Linked DNA regions of Homo sapiens. The protein of the gene in region 1 interacts with the protein of each later gene in a biochemical or structural test. Each region holds a gene or a part of one and is shown on either strand. Other genes may lie near its edges.

The links.
Region 2: the proteins of CDC25B (region 1) and YWHAB form a complex in vitro, tested with the Homo sapiens proteins (2 studies listed by BioGRID).
Region 3: the proteins of CDC25B (region 1) and MELK form a complex in vitro, tested with the Homo sapiens proteins (one study listed by BioGRID).

Annotation. Positions count from the first base shown.
Region 1 is NC_000020.11:3,791,735-3,799,329, forward strand, and holds the start of CDC25B (M-phase inducer phosphatase 2), read left to right. Parts: upstream 1-4,575; 5' UTR 4,576-4,797; coding exon 4,798-4,997; intron 4,998-5,887; coding exon 5,888-6,015; intron 6,016-6,677; coding exon 6,678-6,729; intron 6,730-7,595. UniProt on the Homo sapiens protein: Tyrosine protein phosphatase which functions as a dosage-dependent inducer of mitotic progression. Directly dephosphorylates CDK1 and stimulates its kinase activity.
Region 2 is NC_000020.11:44,895,694-44,902,718, forward strand, and holds part of YWHAB (14-3-3 protein beta/alpha), read left to right. Parts: intron 1-5,837; 5' UTR 5,838-5,840; coding exon 5,841-6,140; intron 6,141-7,025. UniProt on the Homo sapiens protein: Adapter protein implicated in the regulation of a large spectrum of both general and specialized signaling pathways. Binds to a large number of partners, usually by recognition of a phosphoserine or phosphothreonine motif.
Region 3 is NC_000009.12:36,575,884-36,582,908, forward strand, and holds part of MELK (maternal embryonic leucine zipper kinase), read left to right. Parts: intron 1-4,189; exon of another isoform or gene 4,190-4,988; intron 4,989-5,760; 5' UTR 5,761-5,798; coding exon 5,799-5,856; intron 5,857-7,025. UniProt on the Homo sapiens protein: Serine/threonine-protein kinase involved in various processes such as cell cycle regulation, self-renewal of stem cells, apoptosis and splicing regulation. Has a broad substrate specificity; phosphorylates BCL2L14, CDC25B, MAP3K5/ASK1 and ZNF622.

The DNA of each region.
Region 1 (7,595 bases):
GAATTCATCTTGTAGATAGCACACAGACACATAAGGGCATACTTACTGCATCGTTGTAAAAGCTAATATCCTAAATGTTCAGCATTAGGGGCTTGAGTAAATATATATTGTTATGGTACTAATATGGATCCATCTCCAAGTAAGAAGAAGAAAGGTATAGAACAGTGGTTTTTATTTTTATTTATTTATTTATTTTTGAGACAGAATCTCACTTTGTCACCCAGGCTGGAGTGCAGTGGCACGATCTTGGCTCACTGCAACCTCCGCCTCCTGGATTCAGGTGATTCTCCTGCCTCAGACTCCCAAGTAGCTGGGATTACAGGCACATGCCACCATGCCTGGCTAATTTTTGTATTTTTAGTAGAGACAGGGTTTCACCATGTTGCCCAGGCTGATCTTGAACTCCTGACTTCAGGTGATCCACCTACCTTGGCCTCCCAAAGTACTGGGATTACAGGTGTGAGCCAGCATGCCAGCCTAGAACAATGTTCATATGCTGTTTGTATATTCTTTAAAATACAGACGGATTTACGCTTGTAAAGATATAGACCTGCAGCCACTAACCCTAAGTGGCCATTGAACTATTAATTTATTTATTTTATGTTTAGAATCAAAGTCTCACTCTGTTGCCCAGGCTGGAGTGCAGTGGTGGAATTATGGCTCACTGCAGACTCAAACTCCTGGGCTCAAGCTATCCTCCTACCTCAGCCTCCAGAGTCACTTGGATTTTTTGTTTGTTTGTCTGTTTTTGAGACGGAGTCTTGCTCTTTTCGCCCAGGCTGGAGTGCAATGGCATGATCTAGGCTCACTGCAACCTCCGCCTCCCAGGTTCAAGCGATTCTCCTGCCTCAGCCTCCCGAGTAGCTGGGATTTCAGGTCGGTGCCACCAGGCCAAACTAATGTATGTATTTTTAGTAGAGACAGGTTTTCACCATGTCGGCCAGGCTGGTCTCAAACTCCTGACCTTGTGATCCACCTGCCTCGGCCTCCCAAAGTGCTGGGATTACAGGTGTGAGCCACCGTGCCCAGCGAGTCACTTGGATTATAGGCAGGGGCCACCACACCGGGCTAAGTTTTTAAAAAATGTTTTGTAGAGACAAGGTTTCACCATATTGCCCAGGCTGGTCTTGAATTACTAGCCTCAGGCAATTGTCCTGCAGCAGGCTCTGGAGTTGCTGGGATTATAGGTGTGAGCCACAGTGCCAGCACTATTGAGCCCTTTAAATGTTGCAAGTACAAATTGAGATGTGCTGGGGGTGTAAAATGCATACTAGTTTGAAGACTTGATATCCAAAAATGTAAAATATCTCATTAATTTATATTGATAACATGTCGAATAATATTTTGAATACATTACATTGAATAAAATATTACAGTAATTTCATGTTTCTTTTTTACTGTTTTAAATGTGGCTACTAGAATATTTTAAATTATGTATGTGGGCCAGGCGCAGTGGCTCACGCCTGTAATCCTAGCACTTTGGGAGGCCGAGGTGGGTGGATCACCTGAGGTCAGGAGTTCGAGACCAGCCTGGCCAATATGGCAAAACCCTGTCTCTACTGAAAATACAAAATTGGCCAGGAATGGTGGCGGGCACCTGTAATCCCAGGTACTCGAGAGGCTGAGGCAGGAAAATCGCTTGAACCCAGGAGGCAGAGGTTGCAGTGAGCCGAGATCATGCCACTGCACTCCAGCCTGGGCGACAGGGCGAGACTCCATCTCAAACAAACAAACAAAAAAACCCAGAACCCCTCTGTGGTCTTGCCCACCTCCCCCCTCACTGGCCCAGAGGTGACCTGACTGTGGGATTTCTGTTTTTTTTTTTTTGGTTTTAGAGAATTTTATTTTATTTTATTTTATTTTTTTATTTTATTATTATTATACTTTAAGTTTTAGGGTACATGTGCACAATGTGCAGGTTAGTTACATATGTATACATGTGCCATGCTGGTGTGCTACACCCATTAACTCGTCATTTAGCATTAGGTATATCTCCTAATGCTATCCCTCCCCCCTCCCCCCACCCCACAACAGTCCCCAGAGTGTGATGTTCCCCTTCCTGTGTCCATGTGTTCTCATTGTTCAATTCCCACCTATGAGTAGAATATGCGGTGTTTGGTTTTTTGTTCTTGCGATAGTTTACTGAGAATGATTATTTCCAATTTCATCCATGTCCCTACAAAGGACATGAACTCATCATTTTTTATGGCTGCATAGTATTCCATGGTGTATATGTGCCACATTTTCTTAATCCAGTCTATCATTGTTGGACATTTGGGTTGGTTCCAAGTCTTTGCTATTGTGAATAGTGCCGCAATAAACATACATGTGCATGTGTCTTTATAGCAGCATGATTTATAATCCTTTGGGTATATACCCAGTAATGGGATGGCTGGGTCAAATGGTATTTCTAGTTCTAGATCCCTGAGGAATCGCCACACTGACTTCCACAAGGGTTGAACTAGTTTACAGTCCCACCAGCGGTGTAAAAGTGTTCCTATTTCTCCACATCCTCTCCAGCACCTGTTGTTTCCTGACTTTTTAATGATTGCCATTCTAACTGGTGTGAGATGGTATCTCATTGTGGTTTTGATTTGCATTTCTCTGATGGCCAGTGATGATGAGCATTTTTTCATGTGTTTTTTGACTGTGGGATTTCAAGGGATTCAATAGTATAATGCCTGCCCTGCCACATACACCCTGTGCAGATGTATATTGGCTGGGTGGGGGGTGGGGGGGATACCTGTTGTGTTTATTTTGAAAATGCAAATCTCGGGGCAGTTTTTTTTTTCTGGTTTTTGGGCTGGGTGGCTTTACAAGGACACTTCCCCCTTCCCTCCTGGCACTAAGGGCAGTCACATCCTCACTGGAAGTAGTGGCTGGAGGTCCAGGGCATAACCCCTGACCCAGGGAGGATGAACCGGAAATTCAGTCTTGCAGAGCCCTCTGCACAGCACAGGAGCTGGGCAAAATTTGGAGAAAAGGAAAGGTCACGTTCCCACCTTGGCCACCCCTCTCAGGTGGGGCTGGGGTCTTCCCCTACCCTTCAGATGCATTGGCCCACCCAGCCCCCCATCACCAGGCCCTCCCTTTTGCCACCCCCATCCAATGCACCTTGGGTCTGGGTGGCTGGGACTGCACGAGAAGGGGTACTCCTGCCTTGCTGAGCTGCAGCCCGCCCCCCGCACCACCACCCGCCCAGCCAGAGGCCACTTCTAACCTGGGGAGACAGGATGCGAAAGCTGCTCACTACCCACCGGCTTTTGGGTGCAGCCTTCAGGCCTCTTGTTCCAGGAGGCCTGGAAAACGAGCGGGGCTGGAAGGCATTTAGATAATTGGAAGATGGGCCGGGCACAGTGGCTCGTGCGTGTAATCCCAGCACTTTGGGAGGCCTAGGTGGGTGGATCACGAGGTCAGGAGTTCGAGACCAGCCTGGCCAATATGGTGAAACCCCCGTCTCTACTAAAAATACAAACATTAGCTGGGCGTGGTGGCGCGCTCCTGTAGTCTCAGCTACTCGGGAGGCTGAGGCAGAAGAATCGCTGGAACCCGGGTGGCGGAGGTTGTAGTGAGCAGAGATGGCCACTGCACTCCAGCCGGGTTGACAGAGGGAGACTCCATCCCAAAAAAAACAAAACAAAACAAAAAGAAAGATAATTGGAAGCTGCTCCGCTTAAAACGAATGACAAATTCAGCCTCCCTGGTCTGGTCATCAAAGAAACACCAATTAAATAATATGGTGCCATTGGCACCAAGTTAGCCAAATCATCAATGGGCGTGATACTTAATTCGCCTCTCTGGTTGCTGACACCCTCCTCGACCCCCAGCCGCGGAAATCCATTCCTAGTTCCACCGTTTAGAGCCTCTCCTGGGGCTGCCGCGAAAATTGGGCCGGTTGGGGTAACATCTAACCTGGGGTCCCGCGAAAGAGCCCATCAGTTCCGCTTGGGGGCCCCACTGCCCTCCCACCTCCTACGCTGGGCGCTTCTCCTGCGAATGACGTTTTGCTGCTGCTCAGCGCAGCCAGTCGCGGAGGCGGGGAGGCTGCGCGGTCAGAGGCGCCTGGAGCGAGCGAATCCTGGCCCACCGCCTGCCCAACCGCGTGACCTTGATTGAGTTAATGAACTTCACGCCTCAGCGTCCAGGTCTGTAAAATGGGGTGTCTAACGCAGACCGTACAGCCCAGCTGGGTTTAGCAAACTTCCGGGAGCCAGTTGGAGCCTCTCCCCATCCCTAGCGGTGATCCCAGGTGACGACATGCCGCGGGGGGTCCTGCGGAGGCCACCCTAGGGCGTTGCTGCTGCCTTTGGGAGTGTGGAGCTCCAAACCATGTCGCGAGAGGCGGATTTTGGGAGGCCGGGATCCTCGCGCCAGGGGGATGTGCGAGGGTGTGGGATAAATCTTAATTCCTCCGGCCCACCCAAAGCCTGGAAATCCAGCCTCCGCGCCTCTTGCCCTGCGGGCCCCGCCCTCAGTCCCGCCCTCATCTAACCCGCTACCCCATTGGTGGCGTCCGGCGGCGCGGCTGCTGTTATTTTTCGAATATATAAGGAGGTGGAAGTGGCAGCTGCAACTAGAGGCTTCCCTGGCTGGTGCCTGAGCCCGGCGTCCCTCGCCCCCCGCCCTCCCCGCATCCCTCTCCTCCCTCGCGCCTGGCCCTGTGGCTCTTCCTCCCTCCCTCCTTCCCCCCCCCCCCACCCCTCGCCCGCTGCCTCCCTCGGCCCAGCCAGCTGTGCCGGCGTTTGTTGGCTGCCCTGCGCCCGGCCCTCCAGCCAGCCTTCTGCCGGCCCCGCCGCGATGGAGGTGCCCCAGCCGGAGCCCGCGCCAGGCTCGGCTCTCAGTCCAGCAGGCGTGTGCGGTGGCGCCCAGCGTCCGGGCCACCTCCCGGGCCTCCTGCTGGGATCTCATGGCCTCCTGGGGTCCCCGGTGCGGGCGGCCGCTTCCTCGCCGGTCACCACCCTCACCCAGACCATGCACGACCTCGCCGGGCTCGGCAGGTAGGACACCCCAAGGAGGCTGCATATGGGGGTGAGAGGCTAGGTCTGGAGTCCTGGGCCTCCTGGAGAACTGGGCATGGTAGTCGAATCCAGGAGGTGGAGTCCGGGGAGGCATCCTGAGCAGTGGAGAGGTACGCCCTTGTTCCCTCCTAGGGGCCCAGGACATGGGAAGTGAGACCTGGGCTGTGCCCCCCACACCTCCAGGTGACCTGCTCTCAGTCTGCACAAGCCTCTCCAAATCTTCTTTCCCCTCACTCCCTCCTCCCTCATTGTGCCTCCACCACGCTGCCTCCGTAATCTCTGCCCGGATAGCCACCATTTTGCCCCAGGATGGGAATCTCAAGCCTGGAGAGGGAACTTAAGGGTGGCAGAGCCGTGGAGCACTCACACATCCATGCCCCTGCTCCCTCCACCCCAGTTCTGCCCCCAGAATTAAGACAATTAATTAAACACTGATCCTGCTCCCTAAGTCTGCAAGGGGAGAGCTGGGTTGTTCCAGTAGGAGAACCTGGTCTTGGTCCATCCTTCAGGAAGGGTCCTGGAAAGGTGGGGGTCTGACAGTTTAGGGGAAGGCTCTCTGGGGCGGCTCTGCTAGACCACCAACCCTTAGGCTGGCCTCCAGCCAGGCAGCCTTGCTCACACCCTGGGCTCACCTTGCCCTGCTCCTGAGAGGACCTTTCCTAAACCAGTCAACGAAGAGAAGACGCTTTAGGGCCTCTGTAGAATGAACCTTCCTTGACCTGAGAAGAGGGGGCCCTCAGGGCCATTGCTTTCCCGGTGTAGTGTTTCGCTCAGTTCTTTTCTCAGCAAGGGAGTGGGAACGTGGGCTAGCCAGGCCTTGAGCCCCACGTTTACCTTTCTCCTTTCCCGGGTCCCTGTTCCCTTCCCAGCGAAACCCCAAAGAGTCAGGTAGGGACCCTGCTCTTCCGCAGCCGCAGCCGCCTGACGCACCTATCCCTGTCTCGACGGGCATCCGAATCCTCCCTGTCGTCTGAATCCTCCGAATCTTCTGATGCAGGTGAGGCCCAGGGGAGCCTGGGGAGATCTGCCTGTGTCAGGAGAGTTTGTGGGGGCTGCCTGGGCCTCCCAATTTCCCTGCCGATCAAACTAACATCCTCCCCACAACCTGGTGGGCCCAGGAGCCTCTCCCCCACCCTCCACAGAAATGGGAGGAAGACACACCTCTTGTGGGGCTCACCACACCCAACGCGGACTGGCTGAGTGGATGAGAGGGTGGGGCCCTCTACGGAGATGAGATCTTACCTATGTAAAACCACGCTCCAGAGTTCCTAAACCACAACCCTACCTGGGAAGCACCCAGGGCTGAGAGTTGGTCTTTAAAACATTCTTAGCCTATAACCTCTTCTTTAAAAATCTGTTGTCTCTTCTAGAACAAATTATTTTAAACCAGTTCAAGAAAAATGCTTAGTGAGCATTGTGGTTTAAAGACGCATATGAAGGAATTTCCATAGTAAACAGGGAGTGGAGCCCTGTACCGTCTGGGGGACGATGTGTCAGCTCTCAGGGTCCATGGTTGGGTTTTTGTTTCATTTTCTAATGTGTCAAAGTCCAAACTAGAAACTGTTTTTTTTTTTTTTTTTTTTTTCATATTGGGACATGGTGGGGGAAAGAATACAGAAAGTGCCACTACTTTCAAACCAAGGTGCTCTGTCCCCTCAGGTCTCTGCATGGATTCCCCCAGCCCTATGGACCCCCACATGGCGGAGCAGACGTGAGTAGAGAAGGGAATGTGTACTTCCAAGCATTCAGCACCTGTCTTTAAGAATCCTAGTTCTACCATAAATTCACCCGGGAGGCCTGGGAAAGCAGACAGACCATGGGGTGGCTTCAGGATCCCCATGGCCGGGGGGCTCACTGACTTTCTCAGGCCTTGGCATTCTGCTCCCTGTCTCAGAGAAGGATCTGCTCTCATGGGAGCCAACCGAGTGTGGGCTCAGGGCCAGGGATAGTGGGGACAGTGGCCACTGGGAGAGCAGATACTAGACTACAGCCCATGTCTTGCAGGAATACAAGCCCAGCGTATGTCCCGTTTTTCTTTCTTGCCTATACCCATTTTTTTCTGTGAAATATTACAATTTAAAAATATGATCCAACTAATTCAAAACTTTAACTCACTCTAGGCCAAACAAAACACAGTTGCCTGCAGATTGATTTGGCTCTTGGCCGATCAGCAACCTCTGACTTCGATGACACTTTACCCTCTGGCCAGCCCTGGTCTAGGCCCTTTCTGCAAGGGAATGGAGAGAGAGTTGGTGGGCTCTGGCCTGGACAGACCATCCCCTTGGCTGTGGGCATGGGTGGTGTCTTCCAGAGCACAGCTGTTCCCATCCAGTTGTTAAAGCCCAAGCAGCGGGGCAGCTGCCAGCCATTAGTAGGGACAGCTGGGCATCTCTGGCCTGTGCTGGGGACTGTGGCTTTGGGTTTAGGATAGTGACTTGTCTTACCTCCCATTGCCTTTGATCAGACTGGGTTGGGCTGCAGATTGGTTCACAAACAGGAAATGGGGAGAGGATTGGGTGGGGTTGGGGGACTGCAGGTTGGTTTTGGTGGCAGCACAGAGCAATCTTGCCCTACCCC
Region 2 (7,025 bases), about 41 Mb from region 1:
CTGGTCTCAAGCGATGCTCCAGCTTTGGCCTCCAAAAGCACTGGGATTATAGATTGATCTGCCATGCCTGACTGGAAGAGTGAATTACTCTTTGAATTTCAGAGGGCACAGAAATTCAAGAAACTAGGTACAAATGTAATGAAGATTTAATATGCTTGTGAGGCTAATAGGTGCTTTGAATTATTTGAGAAAAGGGAGAACTCTACCAACTCTGCAGTTTTATGCTTACATTTCAGGATCAGTTTGTTCATTCAGCAGATATTTGTTCCTACCAATTATGTACAGGATGCTGTGGGAGATATGTCCAAAGGAGCTTATGGTGTAGGAAGGGAAATAGGAGACACTATGTAAGTAATTTTAGTACTGAAGAAACGTGGTAAGACATTGACAGGTATCAGCGAAATGCTTTGTGAGAATATATTCATTAGAGCAATGCCGTCCCATAGGAATAGAATATAAGCCACATGTAATTTAAATTTTTCTGGTAGCTGCATTTAAAAATTTTTTTAAAGTGAAATTGATTCTATCTGTTTTTACTTAACCCATTATGAACAAAATATGATTTCAATATGTGGCACTAGCCACATTTTAAGTGAATAGCCACATGTAGCTATGGCTATGGCTTAAACAGCTTAAGAAAGGCTTCATGGAAGGGATGGTATCTGAGCCACACTGTGAAGAATCTTGTATGCAGAGTAAATTTGGGAAAAGCCATTCCAGGTAGAGGGAGTGGCTTGGTGAGCAAAGATAGAAAAGCATACTTTGTATGTAAGAAAACCATTTTGGCAGAAGCACATATGATGTGGAAGGCATGATGTGGGGGTCTGGAAGATAGGTTGGCAAGCTTTCACTGATAGGGGAGGAAATCTGACTCTGCTTTTGGCATCAGGGAACTTTAAAGAATTTTGAGCGGGAAGTGACTTGAGCAGAGTTATAGGAAAATGGGTCTTACAGCAAAGGCATGGAGGGGGCTGTAGATAATGAGTGACTGAAAGCATTGCCACTAGGGCAAGATTTTGGATGGGAGATTTATTGTAGATGTAGAAATAGGAACAATTTCATTTCTCCTTTGCTGCCTTCCTCCAAACTGCTGGGTGTTGTGTAACCCATTTCCTGTTGAAATTGGTCTAGTTGCTTCAAAATCCATGTTATATAAGTCAAAAGTTATGTAAGCAGTAGCCATCAGGACCTTTAGCTATGGATTTTGTTTGTTGTAAGTTGTTTCTGTATGTGTATAATTAAAAATATTTGAAACAGATAAATGGATACAGATTTTAAAAAGGTGTGCATTCAGTCCTTATCTTGCCATGATGGTTCTCAATCTCTAAGAAATCTTGCAGTAATCTCGGAGAAGCTTAAAATAGCTGACCCCAAACAGAAAGGGTGCATTTTATTTTGGGAAATAGGGAAGGCATATTTGGGAGGTCCCACTGAATAGTCCAGATTCTTTGGAGTAGTATGATTTAACTTTTAATCCTTGAGAAGGAGAGAAGTAAAAGGGGGATAGCTTAATTTTGGGGCCTAGTAGAGCTGAAGAGGTTGATGGCATTATTTAGCAACGGCAATCCTTTATTACTCCATTATGATACCACATGGGATGGCTTAGCTCTGAATTGGCTTTTGGCCAGTACTTTATGATTTGGAGTAATCCACAGGTAGAGTTGCATAGGTACTGTTCTATGAACTTTGAAGTGGGCCTCTAAGTGACTTCTAACTTTGAGTTAGTCTACAGACTGGAAATTTTCTGAAGGTTGTTGGGTCATTGAAAGTTGGCTTCTTTCTGGTGTACCTGGCACTTTTAGAAACCATGAAGTAGGGTTATTTAATGATGAAGATATTTATTGTCCTGATCTCAAAGACCTTATGGTCAAGAAAGTTAGATATATGAAGACAGTGGTCATCCTTTGGTATCCAGGGGGTGTAGGTTCCAGGACACCTGGGGATACCAAAATCTGAAGATACTTGTTTATTTTGTGTTTTTTTCCTTCTTTATTTTCCACCACGGTTGGTTGAATCTGTGTATCTGGAACCTGCAGATATGGAGGGCCAACTATATATACTTTTAAGATGGTAGAGTATTTTTGATGTACTTGTATTAGAGTAGAACAGGTTGTCTTGTGGTAACCAACAGCTCCAGCATCTCAATGTTTTAACCCAGCAAAAGTTTCTTTTGTTTTCACCCTGCGTGTCCAATGCAGGTCTGCAGGAGTCTTGCACTATACAGTCACCCGGGGACTCAGGCTGACAAAAACTCTACAGTTGCATGACTGTACCACCTAGAATACATGGCCTTCTCAGTGGCTGCTGTGAGGGAAAAGAGCCTGGGGAGGCACACGTAGGATATTCACAGTGTTAGCCTGGAAGTAGCGTCATTTCTACTTATCTTTCATTGGACAGAACTACCATGTGGCCTCTTCTGACTGCTGTGGGGGTTCTGGGAAATAGAAGGGAACAAATGGAATGTTTCTTGAGGATTACTCTCTCTGCCTTAGTTTTATTCTAGTGTTGTGAGTGAAGATGTCAGATGGATCAAAGTGAGACTTGCCTCACTGAGTGTAAGCTTACAATTAGTGAGCCTTATATAAGACACAGCTCTGCATGTGATTTAGATAATAAGCAGTAGGAAGAAAAATTATAGTTATGAACTGGAGAATCAATTCTTTCTGAATCACCTAGATTTTGAGTGTATCTTATTGTGCTCCCTAAAACATTTTTAGGTGATAAGGCCCTGTGTGTAGAATTTCTCTCTTGAAAATACAGAAATGACTTTTGAGGCAAAATCATTTTGTGAGTGGAGGTCATACTTTCTTGTTTTTTTTTTCCTTTTTTTTTTGAGATGGAATCTTGCTCTGTTGCCCAGGCCAGAGTGCAGTGGCGCGATCTCTGCTCACTGCAACCTCCGTCTTCCGGGTTCAAGCGATTCTCTTGCTCAGCCTCCCCAGTAGCTGGGACTATAGGCACGTGCACTGTGCCCAGCTAATTTTTTGTTTTTTTAGTAGAGACGGGGTTTCACCGTGTTAGCCAGGATGGTCTCGATCTCCTGACCTCGTGATTCACCTGCCTCGGCCTCCCAAAGTGCTGGGATTACAGGCATGAGCCACTGCGCCCAGCAGAAAATGGTTAATTTAAAAATAGCAAAGAGGCCAAGTGCGGTGGCTCACACCTGTAATTCCAGCACTTTGGGAGGCCGAGGCAGGCAGATCACCTGAGGTCAGGCGTTCAAGACCAGCCTGAGCAATGTAGTGAAACCCCACCTCTACTAAAAATACAAAATCAGCCGAGTGTGGTGGTGCATGCCAGCAGTCCCAGCTACTCGGGTGGCTGAGGAGAATCGCTTGAACCCAGGAGGCAGAGGTTGCAGTGAGCCGAGGTTGCGTCACTGAACTCCAGCCTGGGTGACAGAATGAGACTCCGTCTCCAAACAAATAATCATTTTCAGAGCCTTAAATTGTGATACCATGTATGTAGTAATGAAAGAATTTGTTTTGAAAATACTGGCATTGGCTAGGTGCAGTGGGTCACGCCTGTAAGTCCCAGCACTTTGGGAGGCCAAGGCGGGCAGATCACCTGAGTTTAGGAGTTCAAGACCAGCCTGGCCAAAAATGGCAAAATCCCATCTCTACTAAAAATACAAAAGTTAGCTGTGCATGGTGGCACGTGCCTGTAATCCCAGCTACCTGGGAGGCTAAGGCAGGAGAATCACTTGAACCCTGGAGGTGGAGGTTGCAGTGAACCGAGATCCCACCACTGTACTTCAGCCTGGGTGACAGAGTGAGACTCTGTCTCAAACAAACAGACAAAGCACACAAAAAAACCTGACATTACTACTACTGTTTAAAGTAGCATTTCATGTTTTTATAGCTCAGGATATTAGTGTATTTTTATACTGTGTGGCACAGATTGATATATCAATATTTAAACCAACAGTACATAAAATTAACTCTTCTTGTTTAGTAAATAACTTTTCAATTATTTTATCCAAAAATTACTTATTAAAATTACCGCACTCTGTAAATGGTGATTATTGCAGTGGGGAACTGACTGTGGTGAGTTGATAAGAGATATTCACTGATTGGCATATGGATTTGATAAATTGATAAACTGAAGTCACTAGGATTTTTGTCTATTTCAGAAAAACTTTAAATGAACTCAGTTATGGTTCAGATGAATTCAGTTATGGTTTCAAGTTATGTTGCTGTACATCTTGTTATACACCCCTTTCTCTTGCAACCTATACCATATACAAAATTAGTGCCTGATATTTTTATATAATGCTTTATACTTTTTAAGGTGCCTTCACATGTATCAGGTCTTTTGTTCCTCATAACAGGCCCACTAAAAGAGTTGGTAGTGTTCTTTCTTTTTTTTTTTAGAGACAGGGGTCTCAGTTGGTTGCCCAGGCTGGAATGTAATGGCACAGTCACGGCTCACTGCATCCTGGAACTCTGGGCTCAAGTGATCCTCCCACCTCAGCCTCCTGAGTAGCTGGGACTACAGGTGCACACCACCACACCCAGCCAATTTTTTCTTCTTTTGTAGAGATGAAGTCTTACTATGTTAGAGACTGATTTGCCAGGATAATCTTGAACTCTTGGGATCCTAGGCGTGAGTCACCACATCCAGCCCTGGGTAGTGTTCTTATTGCCCAGTAGAGACCGAAGCTCTCAGGTTAAGTGATTTAACCAAGGTCATGCCACTTGTAAGTAAGTAGCAGAGCTAGTGCTAGATAGAGCCCAAGTCTGACTGCCCTTAGTTTATGTTCTTCCTGTGCAGTGTGTCCTAGTAACAAAGTTAGCAGATTACAGAAGATGTGATATAATCTTTCCCATCCTTCAGTTATCTACTGCTTGATGGGTGCAGCCAAATAGATCATTTAAAATCATATCTTTTGCTTCAGGATTGGTTGAAACAAACATCATACTTACTCTTTCCTGTACTATGGAAAAAACAGGTTTAGTCAAAACCAGAGTTGCTTACAGGACAGTGAAGAGAGGACTTCCTGTATTACAGGATACAGTTGGATTAAGGTCATTAAAACAAACCAGACAATTACTGAGAGAAGTCAAGGACATATATATAGTAAGCATAAACTTTTTTTTTGAGATGGAGTCTCACTCTGTTGCCCACGCTGGAGTCCAGTGGCGTGATCTCGGCCCACTGCAACCTCTGCCTTTTGGTTTCAAGCGATCCTCCTGCCTCAGCCTCCCCAGTAGCTGGGATTACAAATGCCTGCCACCACGCCTGGCTAATTTTTGTATTTTTAGTAGAGATGGGGTTTCACTGTGTTGGTCAGGCTGGTCTCGAACTCCTGACCTCGTGAATTGCCCTCCTCGGCCTCCCAGAGTGCTGGGATTACAGGTGTGAGCCACTGCACCCGGCTAGTAAGCATAAACTTCTAAAGAAATAGTTATTAAGCAGTCTGTATGTGCCAGGCAGGTGAATTAGGCTAATGGAAGAAAACAAAAGCTCTAGAGCCAGATAGATGTGAGCTGGAGTTCTGGCTCTCCACCATCTATTTGCATGTTGCTCTGGGCATATCACTTGCCTTCCCTGACCCTCCATTTCTTCACCCATAAGAAGGGGAAAGTTGTTGTTATGAACATACCTACTCTGGGACTGTTGGGAAGATTACTGGACCAAAATAATATAAAGGCCTTAGCAAAGTACTTAACCCTAGAGGTGTTTGATATATCATCAATATTGTTGATGGCATTTGGAATGAGATGTTTCACATTTAGTATGCTGCTTTCCAGATGGGTTGGAAGAAGATTCACACACGTTTCCTAGGCCCCGAAACCTGACATTTGCTCTTTCTTTTTCTCTTGCTCTTGTTCTAGGGAATGACAATGGATAAAAGTGAGCTGGTACAGAAAGCCAAACTCGCTGAGCAGGCTGAGCGATATGATGATATGGCTGCAGCCATGAAGGCAGTCACAGAACAGGGGCATGAACTCTCCAACGAAGAGAGAAATCTGCTCTCTGTTGCCTACAAGAATGTGGTAGGCGCCCGCCGCTCTTCCTGGCGTGTCATCTCCAGCATTGAGCAGAAAACAGAGAGGAATGAGAAGAAGCAGCAGATGGGCAAAGAGTACCGTGAGAAGATAGAGGCAGAACTGCAGGACATCTGCAATGATGTTCTGGTAAGAGGCCAGTGCTTCTGTTTTGAACAGTGGTTTCTAAATAGTATTAATTTAATGTATAAATGCAGACTCTCAAAACAGCTTATGAGAGAGAGGTGTCTGAATATACTGGAAAGCTGCCAGGTATTTACAACTAATTTTTAAGCATATGATATAATTTGTGTCACCTATTGCCTGATCAGAGGTTGTACATCACTTCTGAGATACTTTCCTCTCCTATCAAAAAGACCTGTGAAAAACAGTGACATTTTTTCAGCCTCCCTCCATCTTTTAAAATTGAGGCCAGATAGACAGGATTTTAATAGATACAGCTACAGATAGGCTATTGTGTATATTAGTCAGAGTAGTGATGTCATCGCCAGTAGGGGAGGGAGATGAAAAAGCTGAGCTGCCTTTCAGCCTCTCCCCAGTCATGCCTTCACACTGTAAAGTCCTGCTTTGGTCTGAAAGTTAGGCACATCCATCAAGTTCGGCATGCATTCCAGAGCCAAATTCAAAGTGTTTTGGGCATTCTCCTCTCCTGTATTTTACATAAACCCTTAGTCAGATGATTGATTCCCTCTGGCCGCCACTTGGGATTGAATGGGAGGGGTACGTACTCCAAAACAAATCATAATCATATTGTCTTTCCCGCACATCCTGAGCCATTGGGAACTTTCTTTTTCTTCCAGGTGAAATCAGGTAAAAATGAACTCAGCGAGGGCTGCTTTGAAGGGAAAAGGAATTCACACTTGGGGACCTACCACCTTCCCTGCTGGCTGCCTTTCTAAATTACTGCCCATGACTCCTTTCTTTTGAAAACCAGTATAAAGCTTGTCAGCCATCAGGCAGCACCCCTTATCCCTAACCTATTAGGAGTTACACACTGTCTGTCTACAAAGAATA
Region 3 (7,025 bases), on another chromosome or scaffold:
ATTTCCATTCTCCTGCTCTCTTTTTTCTTCTGTATCAGGATTCCAAAGATTTCTGAGCCTTAGGTTGACCTCTATACTTTTACTGTTTTTATTGCCTTTTGGAATTTCTTAGTCCTATGGTTCCTGTTTGTTTTTAGGATGAGGTTCCAGTTTATCCCCACATTTGCCCCACTGACAAATGCCCTTTAAAATATTTCTGAATTAGTGTTGCTGTTTAAAGTATTTAATCCTGTGCCTTCAGGTGCCCAGTGAGAATAAATTTGTCCTCTGTGATATCTCCTTGCCTTGAGTAACTTTTTCTACTCCAGTGGAAGCAGAATGTTTCATTTTCTATCAACAGTTTTCCCTCAGTACTGGGACCTGACCTTGCTTCTTCTAATGTTTGCCTACTGTGTTCATGCAGATTTCGTTAGGTTAAATGTTCAACCTACTTATTAAGTTGGGTCCAGTGTGATCTCTTCCTAGGAAATGGCTTAATATTGTTTATTTTATCAGAATGTCGTTTTGCATGTTATCTTTTTGTGTGCTATTTCTGCTTTGATGTTGAAGACTGAACCTTGTTTTTTAAAGCTGATTTAATTTTTTTCTTGAGTGTCGATATTTTTCCTTCTAAAGCTTCTGCTCTAGTTTTCTATTCATTGACCAAATTTTTTTTGTTTGTTTTTGAGCTGGAGTCTCACTCCTGTCGTGCAGGCCAGAGTGCAGTGGCGTGATCGCGGGTCACTGCAACCTCCACCTCCTGGGTTCAAGCGATTCTCCTTCCTCAGCCTCCCTAGCAGCTGGGATTACAGGTGTGCATCACCACGCCCGGCTAATTTTTGTATTTTTAGTAGAGACGGGGTTTCTGCATGTTGGTCAGGCTGGTCTCGAACTCCTGACCTCAGGTGATCCACCTGCCTTGGCCTACCAAAGTGCTAGGATTACAGGCGGGAGCCATTGTGCCCAGCCGTTTTTTACTTGCTGATAATAATTTTCTTTTTCTCTCCAAGTAAAATGATTCATGGAATCAGTGTTTCAGGCATAGAAAAATGATATTTTTAAAATGTCCTTTGTGGCTTTTGGGGTTTTGATAAGTTCATTCAGAATTTTTTCCACCTCAATTTTAAGAAGACTACTCATCATTGTATGAAGGGCCTTCTCTTATTAAGCTCTGTCTTCCTTTATAAGCTCACCACACTTCTGAGGTTGAACTCACACTCTAGGTCTTCCAAATTCATGGCCATTATTAAGGCTTAGTAACATGCTAGTCACTCAGTTCTGGATAAGGGCAGGGTGAAGAACAGAGAATTTGAAGGTAGTTTACGTGGCACCTGCCACTCATCAGTTTGAGGCTTAAACAGGCTTGCTTGGCCAGGGCGATGGCTCACGCCTGTAATCCCAGCACTTTGGGAGGCCAAGGAGGGTGGATCACCTGAGGTCAGGAGTCTGAGACCAGCCTGGCCAACATGGCGAAACCCCATCCCTACTAAAAATACAAAAATTAGCCGGGTATGGTGTTGTTGTTCGCCTGTAGTCCCAGCTACTTGGGAGGCTGAGGCAGGAAAATAGCTTGAACCTGGGAGGCGCAGGTTGCAGTGAGCTGAGATCGCACTACTGCACTGCAGCCTGGGCACCAGAGCAAGACTCCATCTCAAACAAACAAACAAACTAGCCAGGAGTGGTGGCATGTGACTCCTGGCCTCAAGTGATCCACCCACCTCAGCCTGCCAAAGTGCTGGGATTACAGGCGTGAGCCACTGCACCTGGCCTCGACTAGATTTTAATTTTTAATTTTTATTTATTTTTTTGAGACACAGCTTCGCTTGTTACCCAGGCTGGAGTGCAGTGGCATGATCTCGGCTCACCGCAACCTCTGCTTCCCGGGTTCAAGTGATTCTCCTGCCTCAGCCTCCCTAGTAGCTGGGATTACAGGCATGGGCCACCACGCCTGGCTAATTTTTTATATTTTTAGTAGAGACGGGGTTTCTCCATGTTGGTCAGGCTGGTCTTGAACTCCCGACCTCAGGTGATCCGCCTGCCTCAGCCTCCCAAAGTGCCGGGATTACAAGTGTGAGCCACTGCGCCTGGCTGTTTTTTATTTTTAGTAGAGACAAGGTCTTGCTATATTGTCCTGGCTTGTCTTGAACTCCAGGCCTCAAGCAATCCTCCTGCCTTGACCTCCCAAATTGCTGGGATTACAGACATGAGCCACCATGCCCAGCTATCTTTACGCTTCTTCCTTTTGCCACTCCTAGCTGTAGGTTTGGTATGGGGAAGACCTTAGCTATCTATGTTTTCAACATTTCAAATATTTGTCTTTTGCTTTTAAGTCTTTACAACTGTTACTGATTTTGTATGGTGTGAGATAGAGATCCAATGTGTTTTTTTTTTTCCTTCACCTCATGGCTAATCAATTGTCCCAGCTCCAGAGCTGCATTTCCATCACCTGTTACCTCTAAAAGCAGCCTCAGTTCAGTACCTGTCAACTTTTACTTCCTCTAGGATCTTTGCACCTAAATTCCCTCTTTCTGGAATATTCTCCGTCTATTTCTTTGTGGGCTATGACTGTTAAGGCCTACAGACCAAAGACCACATCTGTAGTAAAAATCATTAGATGTATTTAGTTTGCTGCGCAAGAGAAACCATACTCTTGAGAATTTTGGGTAGTCTCAGAGTGAGTTGAAAGGGGCAGAATGAGGGAAGAATGAGGTGGGCCTGAGGATGTCATTGAAGACAATGAAGTCAGTCAAATAAAGGATCTTTATTTTAACAGCCTTGTATGGAAACATTGTTTATATGGTTATGTTCAGATTCTATTGAAACCATTGTTCAAGTTTTGATAGGAATATCACAGTCTGATTACTGGCAGGGCTGATTTTCTCAATTCTCATCCTTTGAATTAGAGCTTGGCTTAAATGTTACCTTCTCAGAAACCACTGTTGCTTATTTTTATTTCAGTATTTAGTATAGATAATAATAATAGTAATTATTATTTTTTGAGACAGAATCTTGCTTTGTCTCCCAGGCTGGAGTGCAGTGGCACGATCTTGGCTCACTGCAACCTCTGCCTCCTGGGTTCAAGCAATTCTCCTGCCTCAGCCTCCCGAGTAGCTGGGATTGCAGGCGCACACCACAAGGCCTGGCTAATTTATTTATATATTTATTTATTTATTTATTTTTGTGAGATGGAATTTCGCTCTTGTTGCCCAGGCTGGAGTGCAGTGGCACGATCTCGGCTCACTGCAACCTCCGTCTCCTGGGTTCAAGCAGTTCTCCTGCCTCAGCCTCCCGAGTAGCTGGGATTAGAGGCATGTGGCACCACACCTGGCTAATTTTGTATTTTTAGTAGAGACGGGGTTTCACCATGTTGGTCAGGCTGGTCTCGAACTCCCGACCTCAGGTGATCTGCCCGTCTTGGCCTCCCAAAGTGCTGGGATTACAGGCATGAGCCACCGCGCCCAGCCTAATTTTTATATTTTTTAGTAGAGACCGGGTTTTACTATGTTGGCCAGGCTGGTCCCGAACTCCTGACCTCGTGATCCGCCCACCCTGGCCTCCCAAAGTGCTGGGATTATAGGCGTGAGCCTCTGCACCCGGCCTATAAATTATAAGTATTAATTTGTTGTCTACTTATTTGCCTTTTGTCTTCTCCACTAGAATATACACTCCATGAGGGCAGAATCATATTTCTTCTCCATTATAGCCCTAGTGCCAAGGGCAGGTTTGGCATATCATAGGTGCTCAGTAAATATCTGTATGAATAAATGAATAAGAGCAAATTCAAGAGTTTTCTAGAACTGCATTAGCAGTTTTTCCAGACACACTGCTGATCTCTAAAAGTCAACCACGAGGTTATTTTCCACAAGTAAGATGGAGATGGTATGAGTGTGACTTTGTATATTAATGTGCATAACAGGGCCCTACTTAGCTCTATGGTTTTTAAAAAATAAACTACTTAATTTTAAAACTCAGGGAGACAAAATCAATAAGATCTACCTAATTTTTTTTACAACTAATTTTTATTTATTATTTGATGTATAATTAACAGTATATGTAACCCACATAAGTTGTGAAGCATAATAATAAAATACATATCATATACATAATAAAATTGTGTATGACTGGGGTCTTAGTTTGGGTTTTCCTGATGACTACTGATAATTTTTTCATGTCTTCTTTTTTTTTTTTTTTTTTTTTTATTTTGAGACAGAATCTCGCTCCGTTGCCCAGGCTGGAGTGCAGTGGCGTGATCTCGGCTCACTGCAACCTCTGCCTCCTGCCTCAGCCTCCCAAGTAGGTGGAACTACAGGCGCGTGCCACCACCCCTGGCTAATTTTTTATAGCTTTAGCAGAGACAGGGTTTTATGATGTTAGCCACAATGGTCTCCATTTCCTGACCTTGTGATCCACCCGCCTCGGCCTCCCAAAGTGTGGGGGTTACAGGCGTGAGCCACCGCACCCGGCCTTTTTTTTTGAGACGGAGTTTCACTCTTGTTGCCCGGGCTGGAGTGCAATGGCACAATCTCAGCTTACTGCAACCTCCGCCTCCCAGGTTCAAGTGATTCTCCTGTCTCACCCTCCCAAGTAGCTGGGATTACAGGCTCCTGCCACCATGCCTGGCTAATTTGTGTATTTTTAGTAGAGACGGGTTTCGTCATGTTGGTCAGGCTGGTCTCGAACCCTGACCTCAGGTGATCTACCCTCCTCAGCCTCCCAAAGTGCTGGGATTACAGGTGTGAGCCACCTTGCCCAGCTTCGTGTCTTTTTTTTTTAAATTATTTTTTCTTCAGGTAGCCTCCCGAGCCAGAGTAGGCTCAGAGACACCCTTTTCCATGTTTTTGTTGGCCATTTGTGTTTCTTTGAGAAATTTTTTTTTTTTTTTTTGAGACAAAGTCTGGCTGTTTCGCCCAGGCTAGAGTGCAATGGCACGATGTCGGCTCACTGCAACCTCCACCTCCCGGGTTCAAGCGATTCTCCTGCATCAGCCTCCCAAGTAGCTGGGATTACAGGTGAATGCCACCCCGCTTGGCTAATGTTTTGTATCTTTAGTAGAGATGGGGTTTCACCATGTTGGCCAGGCTGGTCTCGAACTCATGATCTCGTGATCTGCCTGCCTTGGCCTCCCAAAGTGCTGGGATTACAGGCGTAAGCCACCATGCCCGGCTGAGAAAAGTTTTTTGTATCATTTGCTTATTTTGCTGTTGAGTTTTTCTTATTGTTTTGTCAGAGTTTATGTGTTTCCTGTGTACATCCACTATTATATTTGTTGCAAGTATCTTCTCACATTTATGGTTTTCTTTTTTTGATGGTGTCTTTGGTTGTATAGAAGTGCTTAGTTTTATTTTTATTTTTTTTATAGATGTGGTCTTGCTATGTTGCCCAGGCTGGCCTCGAACTCCTGGGCTCAAGCTGTCCTCCCAAGTGGCTGACAACACACGCACCACTGTGCCCAGCTGAAGTTCTTAATTTTAATGTTGTTTAATATATTAATTTTTTTCATTATTATTATTAGTACTTTATTTAAGTGATCCTCTCCTATCCTGAAATAATGACAATATTCTTTAAAAAGTTTTAAAGGTTTATGTTTCATACTTTTTAAGTCTATCTGGAATTCATTTTTATGTATGGTGTGAGATAAGAATCCTTTTTTTCATATGGCCAATAATCAGTTTTTTCAGTATCATGTAAATGCATAAGACTTATTTAGATTTGCAGTTACAAGAATGGAGGAGATGATCCGGTATTATTTCCTTTATTGATTATGTACTCTCTGTCTTCTAGGTTCTTTTTCTAATTCCAAATAAACTTGCAAGAGGACTATGAAAGATTATGATGAACTTCTCAAATATTATGAATTACATGAAACTATTGGGACAGGTAATTGTTATTTTTTTTTGGAGGCAGTGGATAGATCAACTATTTGAGAGTATAGATTATTTGGGTAGGTGTGAGCTTTTTCGTCTAACCCACACAGTTTTAAAATTCTTCTACCTACTTCAGTAAGAAAAAGTGGAGCAAGCAGAGAGGAGAATAGTAGGAGAAGCCCTGTAGGTTATTGCAAGGACTTTGACTTTTATTCTAAATAATTTATTCTAAATATTTCTTTTATTTCTTTTTTTTTTTGAGACGGAGTCTCACTCTGTCGCCCAGGCTGGATGGAGTGCAGTGGCGCGATCTTGGCTCACTGCAAGCTCTGCCTCCCGGGTTCACGCCATTCTCCTGCCTCAGCCTCCCAAGTAGCTGGGACTACAGGCGCTCGCCATGCCTGGCTAATTTTTTGTATTTTTAGTAGAGACGGGGTTTCACCGTGTTAATCAGGATGGTCTCGATCTCCTGACCTCGTGATCCACCCGCCTCGGCCTCCCAAAGTGCTGGGATTACAGGCATGAGCCACCGCGCCCAGGCTTCTTTTATTTCTTGACTTTTATTCTAAATTAAAGTCATTGGAGAGTTTTGAGTTAAGGGGTAATTTGACCTTTGTTTTTACAGAGTTGCTGTGGCTGCTTGGTAGATAAAAGGTTGGATGAAGGAGGGCAAGAGCAGAGGCAGGGAGATGTTAGCAGACTATTGCGATAATTCAGGTGTTGATGCTAGAGATGATGGTGGTGTGGATGAGGGTGATGTAAAAGCAGTGAAAGGGGTGGGACATTTTACACACACATATGTACACACCTATGTGTGTATGTTTTTATTAAGGTATAACATATAGTAAAATATGCAAAGTGCAATAATCTCAGTGGAGTTTTACACATATATATGTATACACATACCCATATATTCCCTGTGCGGATCAAGACATAGACCGTTTCCAGGGAGTATCTGCCTGCTTTCCCCCAAGGTAGCCATTGATATATTTTGAGGACAGAGCTAATGGGATTTATTGATGGGTTGGAGTGCTAGAGAAAGAGAAGGGCTAAGGATGGTTCCAGGGTTTTTGGCCTGAGCACCAGGGAAAATGGAGTTGCCCTTTGTTGAAAGGAAGAAGACCATGGGAGAGACTACTAGGAAGTTCTTTTTGGAAATGTTAATTTGGGGATTTCTTTTAG